Regions from separate parts of the Homo sapiens genome. Here region 1 is linked to region 2. Evidence: fine-mapped expression QTL. Tissue or cell type: esophagus mucosa. Region 2 holds a variant in brackets; the other region holds the start of a gene. All regions are shown on one strand. Distances are from middle to middle.

What was found. PIP is the estimated chance that this variant, and not a neighbour inherited with it, causes the effect.
Region 1: it holds the start of USP28, and the variant in region 2 is fine-mapped to the expression of USP28 in esophagus mucosa (GTEx, PIP above 0.99).

What each region holds. Positions count from the first base shown.
Region 1 is chr11:113,872,051-113,880,151 of GRCh38, forward strand. It overlaps USP28 (ubiquitin specific peptidase 28), which reads right to left and starts at 3,522. Exons shown (of 26, transcript NM_001346252.4): 1 at 3,395-3,522. The coding sequence starts at 3,451. RefSeq lists enhancers at 1,410-1,910, 3,497-3,791, 3,781-4,030, 4,081-4,742 and silencers at 3,221-3,580, 3,601-3,760.
Region 2 is chr11:113,767,564-113,775,656 of GRCh38, forward strand. ZW10 (zw10 kinetochore protein) reads right to left here and starts at 6,129. Exons shown (of 16, transcript NM_004724.4): 1 at 5,999-6,129; 2 at 1,270-1,404. The coding sequence starts at 6,103. It also overlaps the pseudogene LOC100288385. RefSeq lists enhancers at 5,860-6,129, 6,260-6,319. The variant G/T (reference allele first, on the strand shown) is at 3,455.

The DNA of each region.
Region 1 (8,101 bases), 100 kb after region 2:
TTAAGTTCTGAGCACCGAGTCTGGCACATAGTGCATGCTCAATTAGCATTAGCTATTACTATTACCAGCATTATTTTCCTTGTTAAGTACTTGCTTCATTTTACTATTGATTTAATTTCTTTGATGAAACAGAACACATGGAGAGATCTCGCCTGGTAAGATGCTATTTGCCAGTAAGTCTTAAAAATACTGTTTGCAGACCGAGGCGGGCGGATCATGAGGTCAGGAGATCGAGACCATCCTGGCGAACACTGTGAAACCCCGTCTCTACTAAAAATACAGAAACATCAGCCGGGCGTGGTGGTGGGCACCTGTAGTCCCAGCTACTCAGGAGGCTGAGGCTGGAGAATGGCATGAACCCGGGGGGCGGAGCTTGCAGTGAGCAGAGATCGCGCCACTGCACTTCAGCCTGGGCAACAGAGCGAGACTCCGTCTCAAAAAAAAAAAAAAATACTGTTTGCATTTGGGGGCAGAGGGGCATGAGAGTTGTGGAACCAATCACTGACTTACTGATGTTTTAAAAATCAGTTAATGAGACAAAAGGAAACGAAAGGTCAATAAATCAAGAGAAAGCAAAAAGGGCATTAAATTTTCACTGAAACTGGCAGGTTTTTATAAGGCTTCAGCTGACATAAAGAATGTGTGATGTGAACCCTCAGTACAGCTGCCAAGAATGACAGGTTTATAAGAACCAAACTGACTTCAAGTTGTTTCTCCTGTAATAACAGTAAATTTTGCTGCTATCGAAGTCAAGAATTGATTAAAATACAGGAATCTGTCACTATGTAACCTCTTTAGATATTCGAATACCAGTTTGCAGTCTAGAGGATTTAGTGAAATCATAAAGTGTCTACTCTCAGATTCGAGTCCATACTGATAGCATATTTCAAGAGTACTACATATTTCTCGCACTAAAATTCTTGGGAGGCCATAAAGGGTTTTGTCTGTCCTGTGTACAACTGACCAATAAGGGAAGGGAAGCAGTCTAGGCTTTAAATAGCTTCTGAGTGTCAGGGAAGGATAGCTCTCCTCAACTAGAACAATGAAATATCCTTTAAGGGAAAGGTAGAATGCCTCAGAGAGTTCAAAATAAAAGAATCCATTCTAACATGAAACTTACCAAGATGAGGAAGAAGTTATTAAAATCTTTCCTGTAAGATCAAAAGGTACTTTTCCTGTAAGTTCCTTCAACCTATCCTGGTAACTTGAAGCATTTTATTAGCAAAAATAAAAGGGGCAAACATTATCAAGCATTCCAAGCTTATCAGCTTTCCGTATAGGGCAAATCACTGGGAAGAACAGTAAATGTCATCACTCTGCAGGTGGCCAGGAATCGGAGTACTCCAGCCAGCCACAGCCACTGGAGTTCCAAGCCTTCCCAAAATAGCTATGACTTACATACAAATGCTCATCAAGTAGCTCACACACAGTCTCAAACGGAGAATGCTGAAATAGGGTCACTACTCAAACTGCGGCAGAGGTAAATGAAGATGCCACTGATTAATAGGCACATGGTCTTAAATGACTGAGCCACGACAAATTTAAATATGACTTCTCTCTCCCTTAAAATAGTCTCTTCTCTAAATCAATATGATAGTCTCCAAACTAAAATTTTCCCATGTTTTTAAATCACTGTGCTAAAAACAAATAGAACTGACCTCTGAAGCCAGAGAAAAATCTTGACACATTTCAATAGGCACTTGTGAACATCTAACAATATTTCCATTAGAAGTCAGTGCATGATACTTTCGTTTCGGAGCCCAGGACCTGGAAGTATCTTTTTCTACATGAGTTTTAAAAAGCGCATCCAGGCTGGGCGCCCTGGTTCACGCCTGTAATCCCAGCACTTTGGGAGGCCGAGGCGGGCGGATCATGAGGTCAAGAGACCGAGACCATCCTGGCCAACACAGTGAAATCCCATCTCTACTAAAAATACAAAAATTAGCTGGGCGTGGTGGCACGCGCCTGTAGTCCCAGCTACTCGGGAGGCTGAGGCAGGAGAATCGCTTGAACCCGGGAGACGGAAGTTGCAGTGAGCCGAGATCGCGCCACTGCACCCCAGCCTGGGCGACAAAGTGAGACTCCGTCTGGAAAAAAAAAAAAAAAAAAAGTGCGTCCAGACTGGGCGCGGTGGCTCACGCCTGTAATCCCAGCACTCTGGAAGGCCGAGGCGGGCGAATCACCTTAAGTCGGGAGTTTGAGACCAGCCTGACCAATATGGTGAAACCCCGACTCTACTAAAAATACAAAAATTAGCCGGGCCGGTGGCAAGCACCTGTAATACCAGCTACTCAGGAGGGTGAGGCGGAGGATGCAGTGAGCCGACATCGCGCCACAGCACTCCAGCCTAGGCAACAGAGGGAGACTCTGTCGAAAAAAAAAAAAAAAAAAAAAAAAAAGTGTCTCCATGCTAAATACTACTGGCCTTCCAGACAAAAGAGTAAAAAGGTATAAAAGGATTCTCACCTGAGGGTATCTGTCTGCCAGCTTTGTACGACAAATATAGTTTCTCATCTCCAAACTCGTATTTGAACAACTGGCACAGATTTCCCGTTTTCTCTTGAAAAAGTGCAGTACTTGAGGGGTGAGGAGGTGGTGTTAAGTTATAACATTCCGAAGTAACACTAGAAGACATGCTCAAATTGCCCTCTTCCCAAGTTTCTTCATACAGACATTAGCTTTTCTCTCAAACCAGGGTTCTTTCACTCTCACCAGATTCTTAGATCAGAAGTCCTTATATTGATTTCAATCTTCTTAGACATTGGGAACAGGAGATCATCATCAGTAGACTTTCTATTCATCACGCAGCTCCTCCCCCTCCTTAAAAATCTAGAGCGATGAAGGCAATAATTGGGGAGGCTGCGCTGTTTTGTTTTTAAAGCCGGGTTGGGAGGGAGGGAAGTGGTGGTAACTGGGACCCCTGGTCTTATAGAAGACGGTGATTAATTCCGGACTTTAAGTGAGATAACTTCGGTCTGCTTTAACCTTTTAAAAACGCCGCCATAAAACTGATTTAAAAGTCAAAGCAAAACAAAACCAACCAACGCTGCCGCTTTCGGAAGTTTCTCACCCCGGACGGGGCCCAGGAGGGCTCACCTTACTGATCCCTGCGGCGGAGAACCCCACGTCCAGCCCTTTATATTTGGTTTTCCAAAATCTGGAAATCCCCCTACAACTTCAGCTCGCCCACGGACGCGAAGATGCAGTCCTCAATCTCCGCGGCCCGAGCCCCGCAGAGCCCTTGGCCTTCTCACCCACGCTGGCGGGCGCACCCCCTGTCCCGCCCGGCCGGGGCGCCCTCCGCAGCCCGCAACCCGCAGCCCTGCAGGCCCCGCACGCTCCCCTCAGGGCCTGGAGCCCGCCCCCAGCTCCCGCTCGCCGCCGCGGAGCCCACCGAGCCGTGGCCGTCTGCCGCGCCGGCCGCGTCGTCCTGCTGCAGCTCCGCAGTCATGGCCGAGGCGCCCAGCCGCGGGTCACCGGTCTCCCGCCGCAGCCGCCGCCGGCCCAGCCTCTCAGGACTAGGCCCCGCCCCCGCCCTCCACCCCGCTCCGTCCCGCCCCCGCCCGCAGCGCGCGCCGGAGGCTTGGCCCACATGCCCCGCCCCCGGCATGCGCGCGCACGCAAGGCGCGCGGCCCGGGGCCGAACAGTTCTGCGTGCTCCCGCGCACGCCCGGCTGACCAGACGTCGGTCACGTGATCCCGGCCCCGCCTGTCGCTGTTGGTCAGCTTCACAGCCGGTGGAGGCTGCGGGCCGCGCTGCCAGTGTCCGGGAACTGGGTTTGCGAATCCTGGGAGCCGCGTTCCTGAGTCTTCTCCGCTCTCTGCCCTCAAAACCTCATTTGTAGGACTGACCTCCGGCTCCACCCTCCCCACGGGCGAGTTAAAACTGTTCCCCCGCCGTGGGAAACTGCCGAATGACCGTGGAATAAAGGATTTCCCATCAGGCTTTGTAGCCATTTCCAACTCCAATGACATGAAGAAGTGTTCACCATCTTTAAGGAGAGAAGGAGGATGAATGCAGTCGCTTGTCTAAAGCTAACCAAACGGACCAAAGCCTCCGTTCATGGGTGTCCCGCTTGGTGCCCTTAACCCTGATGCTCTTAACCTGGGCATGATAAGGAAAATTGCAGTTTTTCCATTTTCGATTTTCAGAAGTTCAAACTAAAATTTTGTGTTACTTTGTTACGTTTGAGCCAGATATTTACGATTTCATGTTAAAAGACCAGGTGCTCCTATTGAATTGTTTTTTGTTTGGTTGGTTTCGGTTTGTTTTTTTTTTTTTCTTTTTTTTTGAGACGGAGTCTCACTCTGTCCCCTCAAGCTGGAGTGCAGCCGCACGGTCTCGGCTCACTGCAACTTCCGCCTCCTGGGTTCAAGCGATTCTCCTGAGTAGCTGGGATTACAGGCACGCTGTACCACACCCAGGGTTTCACCATGTTGCCCAGGCTGGCCTCGAATTCCTGACCTCAGGTGATCCGCCCGTCTCGGCCTTCCATAATGCTGGGATTATAGGCGTGAGCCACCGCGCCAGGCCTGAATTGTATTTTCAACAACTGTGTGGGAATTGTGATTACTGAACCATGTTTCACATTTAAGATACAAATGTGTTATGATGGCAAACCCACTTGACAGGCTGCTGGGTGTCCCAAATCTGCGTAGAGGCTGAGTGTGGAAGCGCGTCTTTTAAGAGTAGCACCTACACCCTTGCCCTGGTCTGGTCTGACTCTCAAGCTACACTTTTAAGTGTGAATTTAACATGGACGGTGGCCTTTCCTATACTCCTGGCATTGTTGTCGCTGGGATTGTTATGTTTCACCTGCAGGCCTCCCTAGTCTGCATGCGGGCGCAGTTTTTGACAAAAGGAAACAGGTACAGGTCAGGTGCAGCTCCCAGGAGAGGCCAGATTACTCTCTGAGGCCTGAACTAGGACTCCTGCAACTTCCACCACCTGGAGATACAGGGATCCGCTTCCCCTGGCAGATTAACTGGCAGATTGGCATGGCTGCGGTGATACTAACTTGGAATCTTCCACATTCAACAGGCTGACTGTGTTTGTGTCTGCGAGTAGTAGGACATTTTATGTATGTGGCTCTGCCATTTTTCCTTTCCTCATGAGTGACTGTGTTTATGGCCTCAACCTGGGTGTCACTGTAGAACAGGTTGATTTCAGGTTGATGCTGGTTTTCTTTTTTTTTTTTTTTTTTTTTGAGACAGGGTCTCACTCTGTCACCCAGACTGAAATACAGTAGTGAGATCATGGCTCACTGCAGCCTTGAATTCCTGGGCTCAAGCAGTCCAACTGCCTCAGCCTCTGAAGCAGCAGGGACTTCATGCATGTGCCATGCCCAACTAATTTTTGTGTCTTTTTTATGGAGATGGGATCTCACTGTGTTGCCCAGGATGGTCTCAAACTTCTGGTCTCAAGCAATCCTCCTGCCTTGGCCTCCCAAAATTTGGGGATTACAGACATGAGTCACCACGCCCAGCCCACATTGATTTCTGAGTCTAGCTTATTTACAGCATTGCCTATTTCTACACTGCTAGAATGCTTTATTTACCATGTCTCTGGAGCAACCCTTATTTGTCTTTACACATTCATTTTAGGAAATTGCATGTTTATTGTGTGTAAGTGCTGTCAAAACCTATAATCCTTTGTATTAGTCTGTTCTCACACTGCCATAAAGAATTACCTGAGCCTGGGTAAGTTATGAAGAAAAGAGGTTTGACTCAGGGGCATAACAGGAAGCAAGACTGGGAGGCCTCAGGAAACGTACAATCGTGGTGGAAGGCAAAGGGGAAGCAGGCATGTCTCACCATGGCAGAGTAGGAGAGATAGAACAAAAGAAGTGTCCCCCCCGACCCCCCGCACACACACACACACAAAGATCTCATAAGAACTCACTATCATGAGAAATGCATGGGGGAAATCCACCCCATAATCTAATCATGTCCCACCAGGTCCCTCCCCTGGCAAGTGGGAATACAATTCGACATGAGATTTGGGTGGGGACCCAGAGCCAAACCATATTACCCTTATTCATTAAAATTTTCTTTTTTTTTTTTTTTTTTTGAGACGGGGTATCGTTCTGTCGCCCAGGCTGGAGTGCAGTGGTGTGATCTCAGCTCCCTGAAACCTCTGCCTCCCGGGTTCAAGCAGCTCTCCTGCCTCAGACTCCCGAGGGACTACAGGCGCCTCAGACTCCCCTGGGACTAAGGCATGCACCACCACGCCTGGCTAATTTTTAGTAGAGACAGGGTTTCACCATGTTGGCCAGGCTGGTCTCCAACTCTTAACCTTGTGATCCACCTGCCTCTGCCTCCCAAAGTGCTGGGATTACAGGCATGAGCCACCGTGCCCAACCTTCATTAAAATTTTCTTAAAAGACCAGCAGACCTAGGCCAATCACAGGTTCATGCCTGTAATCCCAGCAGTTTAGGAGGCTGAGGTGGGCAGATCACATGAGCTCAGGAGTTGGAGACTACCCTGGGCAATGTGGCAAAACTCCATCTATACAGGAAATACCAAAAAAAAAAAAAAAGTATTAGTCCGTTTTCACGCTGCTGATGAAGACATATCCAAGACTGGGCAATTTACAGAAGAAAGAGGTTTAATTGGACTCACAGTTCCACATGGCTGGGGAGGCCTCAGAATCATGGCGGGAGGTGAAAGGCTCTTCTTACATGGCAGCAGCAAGAGAAAATGAGGAAGAAGCAAAAGTGGAAACCTCTGATAAACCCGTTGGATCTCATGAGACTTATTCACAATCACAAAAATAGCACGGGAAGACCGGCCCTCATGATTCAATTACCTCCCCATGCGTACCACCCACAAACACGTGGGAATTCTGGGAGATAAAATTCAAGTTGAGATTTGGGTGAGGGCACGGCCAAACCATATCATTCCACCTCTGGCCCCTCAAAATCTCAGGTCCTCACATTTCAAAAGCAATCATGCCTTCCCAACAGCCTCTCAAAGTCTTAACTCATTTCAGCATTAACCCAAAAGTCCGCAGTCCAAAGTCTCATCTGAGACAAGGCAAGTCCTTTCTGCCTATGAACCTGTAAAATTAAAAGCAAGCTAGTTATTTCCTAGATACAATGGGGGTACAGGTATTGGGTAAATACAGCAGTTCCCAATGGGAGAAATTGGCCAAAACAAAGGGGTTACAAGGCCCAAGGAAGTCCAAAATCCAGCGAGGCCGTCAAATTGTAAAGCTCTAAAATGATCTCCTTTGACTCCAGCTCTCACATCCAGGTCACACTGATGCAAAAGGTGGGTTCCCATGGTCTTGGGCAGCTCTGCCCCTGTGGCTTTGCAGGGTACAGTCTCCCTCTTGGCTGCTTTCATGGGCTGGCATTGAGTGTCTGCAGCTTTTCCGGGCACACAGTGCAAGCTGTCGGTGGACCCACCATTCTGGGCTCTGGAGGACAGTGACCCTCTTCTCACAGCTCCACTAGGCAGTGCCCCATTAGGGACTCTGTGTGGGGGCTCCGACCCCACATTTCCCTTCCATGCTGCCCTAGTAGAGGTTCTCCATGAGGGCCCCACCCCAGCGGCCAACTTTTGCCTGGGCATCCAGGTGTTTCCATACATCTTCTGAAATCTAGACAGAGGTTCCCAAACCTAAATTCTTGACTTCTGTGCACCTGCAGATTCAACTTGGAAGCTGCCAAGTCTTGGGGCTTCCATCCTTTGAAGCCACAGCCCGAGGTGTGCATTGGTCCCTTTCAGCTATGTCTGGAGCATCTGGGACACAGGGCACCAAGTCCCTAGGCTGCACACTGCATGGGGACTCTGGGCCTGGCCCACAAAACCACTTTTTCCTCCTGGGCCTCCGGACTTGCGATGGGAGGGGCTGTTGTGAAGGTCTCTGACATGGCCTGGAGACATTTTTCCCGTGGTCTTGGTGATTAACATTAGGATCCTTGCTACTTACGCAAATTTCTACAGCTGGCGTGAATTTCTCCCCAGAAAATGGGTTTTTCTTTTCTTTCTTTCTTTTTTTTTTTTTTTGAGGCGGAGTCTTGCTCTCGCTCTGTTACCCAGGCTGGAGTGCAGTGGTGCAATCTTGGCTCACTGCAACCTCTGCCACCCAGGTTC
Region 2 (8,093 bases):
CTGCCTCTGAACATTTTAACTGCCTTCTCATATCCTGGACTCATTTCCCTCAAGTTCTTTCTTCAAACTGCAAGCAGAATAGGATTCCGGAAATTCAAATCTGATGTCACTCTCTTGCTTAAAAACCTCTATGGGTTCCACAGGGCCATCAAGATAACGTCCACACTCTTTATCATGTTACTACTAACCTGATATGCAAGGCCCTTGCTTACCTTTCTAATTTCATCTTATGTCCCTTCCCACCAAAATCCCACATTTGTCTTATGGAATACTTGTAGCTCCCCAACAGTGACATCTCTCTATTACCTCCATGCCTCTGCCTACCTAAAACTTATGGCTACTTACAACACTCTTCCTTCCCCTGTTGCCTATCACTTCCCGTCTTGGTTTGGATGCCATTTCCTATAGGAAGCCATCCTTAGCTATATCTCCTCTCTCTAACTGTATTACTCCTATTTATTGCTGTGGCACACTATTACCAGGCACGAGATTCACACCTTGAAATAAAAAACATTCTTATTCAGCAACTATTACACTGCCTGGCACCTTTTAAGTGCAGAATAAATATACCAAATGCCTGAATAAACTTCTAACATACACCTATTGAAAAAATTCTCTATTATGAACCATAAATTTGAATATTTCTCCCATATGACAGAGCTTCAAATATTGAAAATGTTTCTTCCCAAGGCTAAACATCCTCAGTTTATTTCACAGTTCTTCAAATGGTACAGTGTTCAGGGCTAAACCTTCTCATCCAGACCAGCCATCTTTCAAAATAACAACAACCAAAACTAAATAAATTTCAACAGCCAGGGTGTGGCCAGTAAAAGGTACAGAGAGCCAATTACTGTCTTGTTCCAGACACTTCATTTCTAATAGCACAGTCTAATGTTACACTATTGATATTGACTCCCTAATCAATCAACTAATTACAAATGCACTCTGGGGATATTTTTTGAACTGTGCCAGAGGTGCAAAGTAACAGATTGATCCACTCACTTTGGCCACCACAAAGTGCTGGGATTACAGGCATGATGCACCGGGCCTGGTCAAATTTTCTTCCATAAAAAATAAGTTATTTAAATTGCACTTTTGGAAATACTTCTATTTCAGAATTGAAGTCACCCTACAATCATTTAGTTCAATCTCCATTTACCAATCAGAAAAGTGAGGGTTTAAAAAGTTGTACACAATTAAGCTGTCTTAGCAATCAGGAAGCTGAACCACCTCCCTACAAACCTACCCAATATAACAAATTATCCTTACCTCACTCTCTATCCTGGATTTCAGCAGGTCAATGTCTTCAGATAGCTTATCCACCTGGGTAATCAGGCCCTGCGCGCTCTGCATGCTAGGCAGGAATTCACTGTACTTCTTGCTAATCATATTGCACACCTCACCCTAAAATATAAAACAGAATTATATTAAAAGACAGTGAAATGAGTAGAGAACTCTAATAAGAATATATTCATCTTCCACAAGGCATTTTCCATGTTAGAACCTTCTTGCCAATTGCCTATACCCATTCACTTTCCCTCCAAGCCAATGAGTTTATTTCAAAAACACATTTCTCCCACCATGAGGGGTCTCATAACATTATTAGGGTGAAAGAAGACAACAATATCAAACATCACTATGTACTCCAAGAGTATATACAACTATTACTGGTCGATTAAAAAATTAAAAAAAAAAAAGGAAGACAATGATCACCAAACCCCAACGGCGCCCAAGACTTGTACAAATGCTGGAAAAGAGAAAAGGTGGAGCCAGAAGTTCTCATATTGAACTATATCAGACTGTGGTCACCAATTTTAATCATAAATCTAATAGAAAATAAATGGATAAATTAAATCCATAATCTGTATATCTCAATCAATTTCTATTTTCTTGCCTATAATATTTTATGGCCTGATCTTAAAACCCTACATTGATTTGACTTTCATCATCTCCTTTAATACAAAGTAACTTAAACAAAGTACTGAATACTGTGTATTGAATTATTTAATACCTTGAAAGATACAAGGATAAATTATGGGTCCTTCTCTGGGGTGGTCGTGCAGGCAGTAGATGCGGGAAGCCGGACTCCAGGCATCATGTACTACAAATTTAGTGGCTTCACGTTTGAGTTGGTGGGAGCATGGACTTCAGAGGCCTATAGCCCATAAGGATTAATGCCTGTGGTTTCCACAGAAGCACCACCTATCATATTTGCCATACCAACTAAGCTGACTTCTGATTCCACTGCATATAATTTTGCTAGGAAAAACAAAGTTCCAGAGCTGCAGAAGTTTCTCCAGAAAGCTGATGATGTGCCCATCCACCTGAAATGAGGCTTCCCTGACCAAATGCTATACTGGACCACCATGGTGCTGACTGTGGGTGGGATACTGCCTGATCACCCTCTACATGGCTTCACAGCCCCAAAACAAATGAGTTAGCACCAAAACAAATGAGGACTGGTTTGCTTTTTGGCATAAACCTTTTGAATTTTCTTTTTCATTGTTTCTGTTAAATTTCTTTTTTTTTTTTTTTTTTTTTTTGAGATGGAGTCTCGCTCTGTCATCCAGGCTGGAATGCGGTGGTGGAATCTTGGCTCACTGCAACCTCCACCTCCCGGGTACAAGCGATTCTCCTGCCTCAGCCTCCCAAGTAGCTGGGACTACAGGCATGCGCCACCACGCCCAGCTAATTTTTGTATTTTTAGTAGAGACAGGGTTTCACCATGTTGGCCAGGCTGGTCTCGAACTCCTGACCTCAGGTGATCCGCCCACCTCGGCCTCCAAAACTGCTGGGATTATAGGTGTGAGCCATAGTGCCCAGCCTAATTTTTTTTTTTTTTTTTTTACTTGGATGATACATGTTTGCAAGAAAAACAGATATGAAGACAGTATTTTGGCTTGCTTATGAGATGCATATGGCTTGTCAGAGCTCATTCAACAGTTAAAGCCATTGTTTAAAGAAATGATGCATCCCGGCATTGTGGCTCACACCTGTAATCCCAGCACTTTGGGAAGCCAAGGCAGGTGGATCACTTGAGGTCAGGAGTTCAAGAATAGCCTGGCCAACATGGTGAAAACCCATCTCTACTAAAATACAAATAAATTAGCCGGTCGCGGTGGTGGGCGCCTGTAGTCCCAGCTACTTGGGAGGCTGAGGCAGGAGAATCACTTGAACCTAGAAGGCAGAGATTGCAGTGAGCCAATAACTCGCCACTGCATTCCAGCCTGGGCGACAGGGCGAGAGAGACTCTACCTCAAAAAAGAAAAAAAAAAAAAAAGAAATGATGCTGCACTCTGTGTTTGTGCTCCTGATTTCCCTGCAGGTTCTAGATGAAGGTTGCACGTTGCACACAGGCTCATTAACGTCAGTCTGTACTTCCTCAAGTCGGGGACTTGAGGATGCTATTTTTTTTTTTTTTTTTTTTGAGACAGAGTCTCACTCCGTCGCCCAG[G/T]CTGGACTGCAGTGGTGGAGCAATCTCACCTCACTGCAATTTCCACTTCCCGGGTTCAAGCGATTCTTCTGCCTCAGCCTCCAGAGTAGCTGGGATTACAGGCGCCCACCACCACACCCGGCTAATTTGTGTATTTTTAGTAGAGAAGAAGTTTCACCATGTTGGCCAGGCTGATCTGGAGCTCCTGACCTCAGGTTATCTACCCACCTTGGCCTCCCAAAGTGCTGGGATTACAGGCGTGAGCCACCGCACCTGGCTGAGGTTGCGTTTTGAGCATAGGGTACAGAAGCCTTTCTGGATTTGGATGTGGCTGAGGAAAGAAGACAGAAGCCAAGGCCATGCACATAAAATGAGGGGTTTGAGTTAGTACTTACCTGGGCTGGAGTGGGGGCAGGGGGTCCATCTTACAGTAAAATCTTAAAAGAAATTATTTTTAGCCTGTCTCTATTCCTTGGGTGGTTCATTTCAAAGGGTTATTTGCCTCATTCCATATCTTCAGTGAAATCTTACGTGTAATTGTGTGTATGTATTCCACCATGGGAAGAGAGAACACCTGTTTAGTGTTGCACTTTAGACTGGTGTCTTGTTTTGTTAATGCAGCTGTGCCACAAATTCTCCTTTATCTTTTAAAAATGTGATGGCTTTAAATTGATTTTGTTTTTCTTTTTGAGATGGAGTCTCACTCCGTCCCTCGGGCTGGAACGCAGTGGCACAATCTCGGCTCACTGCAACCTCAACCTCCCAGGTTCAAACGATCCTCCTGCCTCAGCCTCCAGAGTAGCTGGGGATTACAGGCGCACACCACCACGCCTGGCTAATTTTGTTAAATTATTATTTTGACAGAGGAATAAATACATGAATTAAAAAAAAGAACAAATTATGCTTGCCCTCAAATTCCTACGTAGTAAAGATACTATATACTTGAGCAACAAGAATACAGGACTGAAATGTAATACAGCAACAAAGTTACAAAGCCTTCCAGGAGCACAAATGAGAAAGAGATCCCCTCTCCCTGAGGGAAGATAAAGATTTTTTTTTATGCAGGAGACATTTGAAATGGAACTTGAAAAATGGGTTTGAAAAATACTACAGGTAAAGATGGAAAAATGGCAACATAAGCAAAATATGGGATTAAAAAAGGGAGGGAGAGCAGAGAAAGTAATTCTCAATTGGCTGAAGATTCAAGTTGGTAAAGGAAACTAGTGAAAGCAAAGAAAGGCATGTTGGGTCCAGAACACGCAGGAGCTAGGGTCGCTTGCCATGCTAGAGTAACTTAAAAACCTGTCCTCTTTCCATCACATTAAACAGTGGTGAAAAATCCGAAAGCCATATTAAAGAAGAGATGTCAGGGATATGACTACTTAAAATTCAGGAAACTACTTTTGTAAAATCAAGAGCTGTTAGGAAGGGTTATACCTGTGCCCTTATGGTGTGTGGCAAACTTGCTCCCTCGAAACCCTACTTGACTCAGATACACAAAATTTTAAATGAAAGCAACTGAAGATGTGGACAAATACTGGCAAGGTAACAATATCAGTACAAAGCAAAACTGTGTGTGGCTACGTGCTTCCAGTTTTTGTATCAATCTCAAGGCAGCAACGTTTACGTAGGTACCAATGACACTCAGCACAGCTTCATGTGCTTGTAGATGAAGTTTTAAAACCACATTAAGAGGCCGGAGACGGTGGCTTACACCTGTAATCCCAGCACTTTGGGAGGCCGAGGCGGGTGGATCACCTGAGGTCAAGAGTTCGAGACCAGTCTGGCCAACATGGTGAAACTCCGTCTGTACTAAAAATACAAAAAAAAAAAAAAAAAAATTAGCCAGGCGTGGTGGCACGCGCCTGTAATCTCAGCTACTCGGGAGGCTGAGGCAGGAGAATCGCTTGAACCCGGGAGGCAGAGGTCGCGGTGAGCCGAGATCACTCCAGCCTGGGCGACAGAGCAAGACTCCATCTCAAAAGATAGATAGATACATAAAAATAAAAACATACTGAGGGTTTGGGTTTGTTTTTTTTTTAATGTCGGGGAGGAGAAAGGTGCAATCCTCCAGGCTATTTTATTCATCAACAAATCAAGGAGTGGGTGGAGGAAATAAACACTCATCGATGGAAGAAGGGGAAGGGGGATCCTGTCTTTTCTATTCCTCTCCTGCGCTCGCTCCCTAGCTTCCTCGGAGCTTCCAGTTGCTCCTCCCGCTCTGCTGGTCTCTTCAGTCTCCCTCTTCCCGCGGCACACCCCTCCCCAACATAACTCCACTCTCCAGTGCTCTCCAGCCACCGCCTGTTCGTCCCCACAGTCCCAGGTCTCCTCGCCTCCTCAGTTCCCAACCCCTGTGTGGGCTCCCCTCCAAGATCCCTCCTCAATCCACACATTCTGGGCCCCTCCACTCCTCATTCAGCCCCCACAACTAGATCTCCCCAACAGGCCCCACTCTGCTGGTCCCCACTCTGTCTGCCCTTAGCCCCTGACTCCTCTCTCCAGTCCCTTCACACAAGGACCCGGAGTCCCCTTCCAGTCAGCAGACAGCTGCCCCGCTCTCACCTTGATCTCCTCCACCCGCCGGGTCAGGCGGCTGATCCGGGTCCCCAGATCCTCCTTTTCCAGCCTCCCGGAGTGTGCCAAAACTTCTGTCACGAACGAGGCCATGGCCAAGACGGGAACCAACGCTGACTGGGTCACTCTCGTAGCCAGCGCCGCAGCTCCCGTCCCGCCGGCCGTCTTGACGCGAGGCCTGCCGGGAAACGGAGTCTCGCGGGCCTCAGACCGCCGCCCGGAAGGCGAGGGGCGCACTACAACTCCCAGCAGGCACCGCGCCAATCCCGAGATGGGATTTCCACGGTGTCCCGTAGTTGGCAAACTGTAAGCAGACGCGTTTTCTTCCTTAGTTGTTTTCAAAGTTCGTTGCTTCCCGCCCGTTTTTCACTGGAGGAAATTAAACGTTTTTAATAACCAGGTCTAACTGAACCTTTCTAAACTTCAAAAGGCTTACTTGTAAAATTATCTAACTGAAAGAGCCAACGAGCCCATCTCGATCTTTTTTCCTCAACTTTTATTGGGCCGCTGTGGCACCAGAATCTACGAATGGCGCCCTCTAGAGTTGTGTAAAGAAGTGGCGTCACCTCATTATAAATAAAAGGTTGCTTATAATTGCATCTATGTACATATATTACATCTACGTGATACATTACACATTTACATTACCTACATTACATATTTATATTACTTAGATATACATAATATTAGTCCTGTGTGAACAAGATACTTAGTACTTTCTGTCATATTATAAATATATAAATGTGTCAAAAGCTTTTAAAAATGGTTTCATTATTTTAATGCATTGCATACAGAAAGATGTTCACAATATTCTATGTATACTATGATTCCTTTTTAAAAACTTAAGTGTATAACCATTGGTCAGAAAACAAAAAGTATGTAAGTATGTATGTAAAGGACAGACATCAAATTATCCTATGGGTGGTGGATTTATGGTATTTATTCTCTTCTCTGCCCTTGCTTTCTCTATTTTTCTGCAGTAAACATACACAGTCCTCCCTTGGTATGGGGGGATTGGTTCCAGAAACCTCCCCTGCCCCAGTAGCAAAATCCGTGGATGCTCAAGTCTCTTACATAAAATGATGTAATGTTTACAAGTAACCAGCACACATCCTCCCCATACACTTTAAATCATCTCTTGATTACTTATAAGACCTAATACAAATCAATCTAAATGCTATAGAGTCGTTATATTGTATTTTGATTTGCATTATTTTTTGTTGTTGTATTGTTATTTTTTATTAGTTTTTTCCAGAATATTTTTGATCTGTGGTTGGTTGGATCCGTGGATACCAAGAGCCAGATGTACTGTTTTGATTAAAAGGTTTTTGGTTTTTTAAAAAGATATATTGTGAGGGTTGACCCCAAGTAGGCACTGACTCTAAGATCCCTGACAATTGTTAAGTGTCTTTGAGACAATCTGCTTATCCCAGTGAAGCAAGGGCCAATTCACATGCCATGAGCAAAGGAAACAAAACTGGGATTGAGAGAGGAAGCACTGAAAACAGCCAAAACATCCTGAGAAACTCCCTTCCTTGGAAAACCAAATCAATTTCTTTTTGGTAGACCTGTCAACTTTGAATTCTAACTGCAACTAATAATAAATGCCCAATGACAAAGAATGACTGATAGATGAAAATTCTGAAACTTTGTACTGCATATTTATTAAGCAATTATCACATAGCAGACATTGTGCTAGGTCTGGGGACCCACAACATGTGAATATATAATCACAGAAAAATATGATAATTACTAATTTGTAGGTAGATGAGGGATGGATCTAGATTTAGTGGAACTTAAATCTTATACAGTTGCAGGGAGGGGAAGGACTCTTTAAAGAAAAGAATATAAAATAATGAATACAAAATTAGATGTCAGCCTTAGAAGGGGCTTGTGCAAGTAATGAGCTGTGAAGTTTAATCTGCCCCTGAGGAAGATGCAAATGGCAGAGGAAATATTGGAGGAAGAGCACCCAGTCTCTGACTGAATTAGAAAGGTTTCACAATGTTAACATTTACAGGAGGCCATCACTTTGGACTGAGTTCCTGCACTAAGCCCAACAGACCAAACCAAAATGGAGTCA